3 separate regions of the Homo sapiens genome follow, and all the other regions are linked to region 3. Evidence: fine-mapped expression QTL. A gene starts in region 3. Each other region holds a variant in brackets. All regions are shown on one strand. Distances are between the middles of the regions.

The links. PIP is the estimated chance that this variant, and not a neighbour inherited with it, causes the effect.
Region 1: its variant is the best candidate, but not a certain one, in a credible set for the expression of TTC9C in lymphoblastoid cells (GEUVADIS, PIP 0.60).
Region 2: its variant is the best candidate, but not a certain one, in a credible set for the expression of TTC9C in sigmoid colon (GTEx, PIP 0.62).

What each region holds. Positions count from the first base shown.
Region 1 is chr11:62,695,187-62,697,686 of GRCh38, reverse strand. All of the region lies in intron 3 of BSCL2 (BSCL2 lipid droplet biogenesis associated, seipin), which reads left to right. All of the region lies in intron 16 of HNRNPUL2-BSCL2 (HNRNPUL2-BSCL2 readthrough (NMD candidate)), which reads left to right. Among named protein-coding and RNA genes, the nearest start is that of LRRN4CL, 6.9 kb to the right of the region's middle. The variant T/A (reference allele first, on the strand shown) is at 1,215.
Region 2 is chr11:62,683,290-62,686,130 of GRCh38, reverse strand. No RefSeq gene overlaps it. Among named protein-coding and RNA genes, the nearest start is that of LRRN4CL, 4.8 kb to the left of the region's middle. The variant A/TA (reference allele first, on the strand shown) is at 1,284.
Region 3 is chr11:62,727,012-62,729,852 of GRCh38, reverse strand. It overlaps TTC9C (tetratricopeptide repeat domain 9C), which reads right to left and starts at 1,367. Exons shown (of 3, transcript NM_173810.4): 1 at 767-1,367. The coding sequence starts at 1,004. It overlaps HNRNPUL2 (heterogeneous nuclear ribonucleoprotein U like 2), which reads left to right and starts at 2,396. Exons shown (of 14, transcript NM_001079559.3): 1 at 2,396-2,841. The coding sequence starts at 2,697. It overlaps HNRNPUL2-BSCL2 (HNRNPUL2-BSCL2 readthrough (NMD candidate)), which reads left to right and starts at 2,469. Exons shown (of 24, transcript NR_037946.1): 1 at 2,469-2,841. RefSeq lists enhancers at 986-1,095, 1,486-1,685, 1,936-1,985 and silencers at 2,246-2,405, 2,576-2,841.

The DNA.
Region 1 (2,500 bases), 32 kb after region 3:
GAGTAGCTGAGATTACAGGCGCATGCCACCATGTCCAGCTAATTTTTGTATTTTTTTTTTTTTAGTAGAGACGGGGTTTCACCACGTTGACCAGGCTGGTCTGGAACTCCTGTCCTGGTGATCTACCTGCCTTGGCCTCCCAAAGTGCTGGGATTACAGGCATGAGCCACTGTGCCGGGCCCAAAGCGGATCTTTTAAGGAAGGGTGAATATTACATGGGAATGTTAGAGAAGGGGGAGAATCTGCCCATCAAGCAGGCAATTGTGGACAAAGGCATGGAATTTTTTTTTTTTTTTTTTTTTGAGACGGAGTTGCCCAGGCTGGAGTGCAGTGACATGATCTCGGCTCACTGCAAGCTCCGCCTCCCGGGTTCACGCCATTCTCCTGCCTCAGCCTCCCAAGTAGCTGGGACTACAGGCGCCCACCACCATGCCCGGCTAATTTTTTTGTATTTTCAGTAGAGACAGGGTTTCACCGTGTTAGCCAGGATGGTCTCGATCTCCTGACCTCGTCTTCTGCCCGCCTTGGCCTCCCAAAGTGCTGGGATTACAGGCATGAGCCACCGCGCCCGGCCGGCATGGATTTATTCACAAGGTTTTAGTATTAAATTCTGTGGATCCCTTTGGAGGAGATTAATTTTTTTTTTTTTGAATTGGGGTCTCATTCTGTCACCCCGGTTGGAGTGCAGTGGCCCAATCATAGCTCATTGTAGCCTCAAACTCCTGGGCTCAAGGGATCCTCCTGCCTCAGTCTCCTCAGCAGCTGGGACTGCAGGCATGCACCACCACACCTGGCTAAGAGAACTACCTATTTTAATGTTTCAAAGAATTTGGGCCAAGGGCAGTGGCTCACACCTATAATCCCAGCACTTTGGGAGGCCAAGGCAGGATTGCTTGAGTCCAGCAGTTCAAGACCAGCTTGGGCAGCATAATGAGACCCCGTCTCTACAAAAAAATAAAAAATTAGCTGGGTGTGGTGGCACATGCCTGTAGTTCCAGCTACTCAGGAGGCTGAGACAGGAAGATCAACTGAGCCCAGGAGGTTGAGGCTGCCAGTGAGCTGTGATCACACCACTGCACTCCAGCCTTTGTGACAAGAGCGAGATCCTGTCTCAAAAAAGAAAAGAATTAATAGACTGGGGGAGTGGTTGAGGGGAAGAATTCATAGGCTGAGCAACAAAGCAAGACCCCTGTCTCTCCAAAAAAAAAAAAAAA[T/A]TTTTAGTTGCATGTGGTTGCATGTGCCTATAGTCCGTATGGTCCCAGGTACTTAGGAGGCAGAGGCAGGAGGATAGATTGAGCCCAGAAGTTCCAGGCACAGTGAGCCATGATCATGCCACTGCCTTCCAGCCTGTGACAGAGCAAGACCTTGTCTTCACACACACACACACACACACACACACACACACACAAAAAGTTTATGAAGCAACTGGCTTAATCATCTGGTCTCTACAGGGGGGTAGGAATCTCATGGAATCCATTTTCTTCAACAGATAGTTTTTTGTTTGTTTGTTTGTTTTGAGACAGAATCTTGCTCTGTCACCCAGGCTGGAGTACAGTGGCACGATCTCAGCTCACTGCAACCTCCGCCTCTCGGGTTCAAGCAGCTCTCTGCCTCAGCCTCCGAGTAGCTGGGATTACAGGTGCCTGCTACCACGCCCGGCTAATTTTTGTATTTTTAGTAGAGACAGAGTTTCACCATCTTGGCCAGGCTGGTCTTGAACTCCTGACCTTGTGATACACTCGTCTCAGCCTCCCAAAGTGCTGGGATTACAGGCATGAGCCAACCGCGCCCGGCCAACAGATAGTTCTGACTGGCAATAAGAAGGTACAAAAAAAGGCCCCTATCAGTGGTGTCAACCATTGCCTTAGTGATAAACACTGAAAGCACCCCCAAGGCTGAACCCATGTTTTGGAGGTAGTTCACTATGGGCTAGGGAAGTATTTTCCAAATTTTTTTTTTTTTTTTTTTTTTTTTTGAGACAGAGTTTTGCTCTTGTCGCCCAGGCTGCAGTGCAATGGCGCGCTCTCGGCTCACTGCAATCTCCGCCTCCAGGGTTCAAGCGATTCTCCTGCCTCAGCCTCCTGAGTGGCTGAGATTACAGGCGCCTGCCACCACGTCCATCTAATTTTTGTATTTTTAATAGAGACGGGGGGTTTCACCATGTTGGCCAGGCTGGTCTCGAACTCCTGACCTCAGGTGATCCACCTGCCTTGGCCTCCCAAAGTGCTGGGATTACAGGCATGACTCACTGCACCTGGCTAACCTTTTTTTTTTTTTTTAACCCATTACCTCTAATTAAAAACAGAAGCTTTACCCTCACTCCTGTAATTTTTATATACTACTGTGTGAGGGCCTTGTTGCCAGATATGAATCAATAAAGGGGCTAGAAGAATATAGAAATAGGAAAAACTAGGGCATGTTTGGTGGCAAATCTTTAACCTCTTGAGGGTGATCCCTGTGAAGAAGCCTTCCTACTCTGAGTCTTGGGGCGCTACCAACA
Region 2 (2,841 bases), 44 kb after region 3:
CATGTTGGCCAGGATGGTCTCGATCTCTTGACCTCATGATCCACCCGCCTCGGCCTCCCAAAGTGTTGGGATTACAGGCCTGAGCCACCGCCCCCGGCCTTGAATTTTTTTTAATTAAACGAATGTAGAAAAGTCTGTTTTGTGTTACTACACAGTATAATCCTTACCTGTGTGGATATTATAACTTTTTAAATAATATATATGTATATATTTTATAGAGATGGGGGGGTCTCACTATTTTGCTCAGGCTAGACTTGAACTCCTGGGCTCAAATGATTCACCCCCCTTGGCCTCCCAAAGTGCTGGGATTACAGGCCATTCTAACTTTTTTTAATTATAAAAGTAACACATGGGCCAGGTGTGGTGGCTCACGCCTGTAATCCCAGCACTTTGGAAGGCTGAGGTGGGCAGATCATGAGGTCAGGAGATCGAGACCATCCTGGCTAACACGGTGAAACCCCGTCTCTACTAAAAATACAAAAAATCAGCTGGGCTTGGTGGCATGTGCCTGTAATCCCAGCTACTCAGGAGGCTGAGGCAGGAGAATCTTTTGAACCTGGGAGGCGGATGCTGCAGTGAGCTGAGATCACGCCACTGTATGCCAGCCTGGGCGGCGTAGCGAGACTCCATCTCAAAAAAAAAAAAAAAAGTAACACATAAGGCGGGCGCAGTGGCACACACCTGTAATCCCAGCACTTTGGGAGGCCGAGGAGGAGGCTGAGGAGGGCGGATCACCTGATGTCAGTTCAAGACCAGCCTGGCAAACAAGGCGAAACCCTGCCTCTACTAAAAATACAAAAATTAGCTGGGCATGGTGGCAGGCACCTGTAATCCCAGCTACTGGGAAGGCTCAGGCAGGAGAATCACTTGAACCAGGGAGGTGGAGGTTACAGTGAGCCAAGATCATGCCACAGCACTCCAGCCTGGAAGACAGAGCAAGACTCCGTCTCAAAAACAGTAAATAAATAAATAAAAATTTAAGCCGGGCGCGATGGCTCACACCTGTAATCCTAGCACTTTGGGAGGCCGAGGCGGGCGGATCTCGAGGTCAGGAGATTGAGGCCATCCTGGCTAACATGGTGAAACCCCGTCTCTACTAAAAATACAAAAAAAATTAGCCAGGCATGGTAGCGGGTGCCTGTAGTCCCAGCTACTGGGGAGGCTGAGGCAGGAGAATGGCGTGAACCCAGGAGGCGGAGCTTGCAGTGAGCCGAGATTGCGCCATTGCACTCCAGCCTGGGCTAGAGCAAGACTCCGTCTCAAAAAAAAAAAAAAATTTTTTT[A/TA]AAGATAAAAGTAACACATACAAATTTCAATTAATACTGAATAATATGGCCCAGTGCAGTGGCTTATGCCTGTACCCAACACTTTGGGAGGCTAAGACAAGAGGCTCGCTTGAGACCAGGGGTTCAAAACCAGTTTGGGCAAAATATCAAAACCTTAACTGTACAAAAAATTTAAAAATCAGGACGGGGGCAGTGGCTCATGCCTGTAATCCCAGGACTTTGGGAGGCCAAGGCTGGTGGATCACCTGAGGTTGGGAGTTCAAGACAAGCCTGACCAGCATGGAGAAACCCTGTCTCTACTAAAAATACAAAATTAGCTGGGCATGGTGGTGCACGCCTGTAATCCCAGCTACTCGGGAGGCTGAGGCAGGAGAATCGCTTGAACCCAGAAGGCGGGGCTGGGCGCAGTGGCTCATGTCTGTAATCCCAGCGCTTTGGGAGGCCGAGGCGGCTGGATCACGAGGTCAGGAGACCGAGACCACGGTGAAACCCCGTCTCTACTAAAAATACAAAAAAAATTAGCCGGGTGAGGTGGTGGGCACCTGTAGTCCCAGCTACTCGGGAGGCTGAAGCAGGAGAATGGCATGAACCCGGGAGTCGGAGCTTGCAGTGAGTGGAGATCATGCCACTGCACTCCAACCTGGGCGACAGAGTGAGACTCCATCTCAAAAAAAAAGAAAAAGAAAAAGAAAAAAGAAAAGAAGAAAAGAACTCAGAAGGTGGAAGTTTCAGTGAGCCCAGATCACGCCATTGCAGTCCAGCCTGGGCAACAAGTGTGAAACTGCGTCTCAAAAAAAAAAAAAAAAAAAAAAGAAGGCCAGGCATGGTGGCTCATGCCTAAAACCCAGCACTTTGGGAGGCTGAAGCAGCTGGATCACCTGAGGTCAGGAGTTTGAGACCAGCCTGACCAACAAGATGAAACCCCATCTCTACTAAAATACAAAAATTAGCTGGGTGTGGTGGCAGGCACCTGTAGTCCCAGCTACTTGGGAGGCTGACAAAGGAGAGTTGCTTGAACCCAAGAGGTGGAGGTTGCAGTGAGCTGACACCACGCCACTGCACTCCAGCCTGGGCTACGGAGTGAGACTCCATCTCAAAAAAAAAATTTATTCTATTATAGAACCTCTACAATAAATTTAGAATACTATGTTATCCCCGCTGGGCTTAATGGCTCAACCTGTAATCCCAGGACTTTGGGAGGCCAAGGTGGGCAGATCACTTGAGGTCACGTGTTCAAGACCAGCCTGGCCAACATGATGAAACCTCATTTCTACTAAAAATACAAAAAATAGCTGGGTGTGGTGGCGGGCGCCTGTAGTCCCAGCTACTCGGGAGGCTGAGGCAGGAGAATCGCTTGAACCAGGGAGGCAGAGGTTGCAGTGAGTTGAGATCGTGCCACTGCACTCCAGCTTGGGTAATGAGTGAGATTCCATCTCTAAAAACAAAAAAAGAATACATATGTTATCCTGAATACACTTGTTATAATACTGCAGTGAATACCCTGTGCCTTTTTTCCTTTTTTTTTTTTTTTTTTTTGAGACGGAGTCCCTGTCTCCCA
Region 3 (2,841 bases):
TGTAATCCCAGCACCTTGGAAGGTAGAGGCGCGTGGATTACCTGAGGTCAGTAGTTCAAGACCAGCCTGACCAATATTATGAAACCCCGTCTCTACTAAAAATACAAAAATTAGCTGGGCATGGTGGCGCATGCCTGTAATCCCAGCTACTCAGGAAGCTGAGGCAGGAGAATCGCTTGAACTCGGGAGGCAGAGGTTGCGGTGAGCCGAAATCACGCCACTGCACTCCAACCTGGGCAACAAGAGCGAAACTCCGTCTCAAAAAAAAAAAAAAAAAAAAAAATTAGCTGGGCGTGGTGGCTGGCGGGCGCCTGTAATCCCGGCTACTGGGCAGGCTAAGACAGGAGAATTGCTTGAACCCGGGACGGGGAGGCTGCAGTGAGCCCAGACCGCGCCAGTGCACTCCAGCCTGGGAGACAGAGCGAGACTCCATCTCAAAAAAAAATAAAATAAAATAAAATAAAATAAAATAAAATAAAAAAATAAAGAAATGCAAACTGATAGGCCCCACGTCAGACCCATCCGAATCTCTGGGGATGGGGCCGAGGAGGTTGTGTTTTAACAGACTCTCCAGGTGAAGTCTGAGAAGCCCTGCTCTATGGCAACTTAATTACAGCCGCACAGATTGACAGGTTATTCCAATTCATGGCAGAATAAATGGATGACAGTAAAAAAAAAAAAAAGTCAGCGTTTTTTCCCCCAATGTTCACAGATGTTCATGTTCCTGTCTTAATGCTCTCTAGCCACCCTTTAGCCCCGTTCTTACCAGCTAGATTGTTATAGCAGTCTGTCTGGGTGGTATGCAATATGTTTTCTTGTTCAGGCGTGAGGGCCGGGCCCTGAGGTCCGAGATTAGGTAACGGAGAGGGCAGACTCGGATCCAGACCCCGCAGCTGAAGCAGAGCTCGATGGTACCTACTCACAGCATCTCGGTACTTCCCTTCCCGGTAGCGCTGGTTCCCTTCCTCCTTGTACAGCTGAGCCTCCTGCAGACGCTTCTCCATAACTGTCGCCCACGGTTCTTGCGGAACTGGGAAGTGAAGGAGCAAGTGAAGCTCTGGGGTTGGGAGCAAAATAACTGACAGTAGCAGCCAATTTAAGGAGGCAGGAAATTACCCTTCTTCCTGGAGAGTCCCCCCACAGGGACCTGCGGTTTGCTTGTTTCTACTGAAAGCCCCACCTCTCCTTTCTGCAGTCTTTTTCTCAAGAAGTGCAGGCAAGTAGTAAGGAAAGGGATGTGGGAATAATGAAGCCCAACATTAAGTGACTTCCTAAAGAGGCGATGTGGGGGTGGATGAGACTTTCCGAAGAACTCAAGCAAGGCCCTACTCAGGAATTGTTGCGGGCGTGAGAACGCCTGGGACACTGGCTTCCGCCTTTCTATTGGACCCGCCCCCCCCCGACCTGGAAGTAGAAGGGAGTGGGCGGGACTAGTGCTAAAACTCCAGAGGGCTTCAAGCAATTCTAACTCTTCTTCCTTATTCAACATTTATTTGTTGACGTCAATAAATAAACTGGGAAGCCGAGGTGAACCACCAGCGACACTGAGGTGTCCACATAAGCGTCACAGCTGCAAGCCCACCCGGCGCCGTGACCAGTTCCTCGCCCTCTGCAGATGCCCAAACCTGGAAGTCTCCTGGGCTTCGGTTTACCAGCAGGAGCAAGGAGAGGAAAGGGTCAGAGATGCGTACAGTTTGGTATCTTGAGGGTCGCGCGCATTGCGCCACACCACCCAATCAGAAGAGGCTCCGGAAAAATAATCCCGCAGAAACGACCCCGCCTCCTCAGCGGACCAACCTGGGAAAAAAAAAAAAAAAAAATTCCCCTGGCAGCTTCGCCAATTGGAAAAATCCGGACGATCACGGATGACCAATCGGAACGGCAAATGACGATTCAAGTTGTCCAATAAGAGAAAAAGGGCGGGTTCAAGGGCCTCTGTTGCTGGGTAGAAGTTGAGGCGTTGAGGAAAAAGGAGGGCCCGGATTACAGTATTTCTTCGTTCTGGGGAGCCCTTTTGCTTCCTAGCCAGAAAAACAATTGCTACTAGGCTTACATGTTGCAACACATTCTCTAATGACTTTTTTTTTGTCGTTACTGCTGCAAGCACAGACAGTAGGGAAAAGAGGCTAGCGACCCCTAAAACGCCACAGCAAATGGAAGTCAGACGGAAGTAAGGGTGGTGGGAGGGGCATGGCATCGGGGAGCTCCGGGCGGCTGCGCAGAACTCCCCGGCTGGAAGTACTGAAAGACCGGCGCGCACACGCTTCCGTGCTACGAGGCACTTGAGCTGCAGCCAGCCTTGCCCGTCTTGGACTCCACTGCGGCTGCGCGATAAAAGCACCGGCGGCGATTGGCCCGGGGGCGCCAGAGGGCGGGAGGAAGCGGGAGGAACTCCGTCGTCCTCCGCGCGCGCCTGCCCGCGGCTGGGGAACCAAGGGCCTGGAGGGGAAACAGCTCCCTGCTGCGTTGTTTTGGGCTCCGTGAGCCGAAAGGGGGAGGGGAGACGAAGGAGAAGCAAACACTGCGCAGCGGGACCGTGCGCGGCCTCCGCTCCTGCGTGCGTGCGCTCGCTCGCGCGGGCTCAGTGCTGGCGCGTGAGGCGGAGGCGGGCGGCGGCGGCGGCGCCTGCGCGGTCGGACTCGGTCGACGGTTCGCAGGGGAGGAGGCGGCGGGAGGCGGAGGAGGCGGCGGCGGCGATGGAGGTGAAGCGGCTGAAAGTGACCGAGCTGCGGTCGGAGCTGCAGCGGCGGGGCCTGGACTCGCGCGGCCTCAAGGTGGATCTGGCGCAGCGGCTGCAGGAGGCGCTGGACGCCGAGATGCTCGAGGACGAGGCCGGCGGCG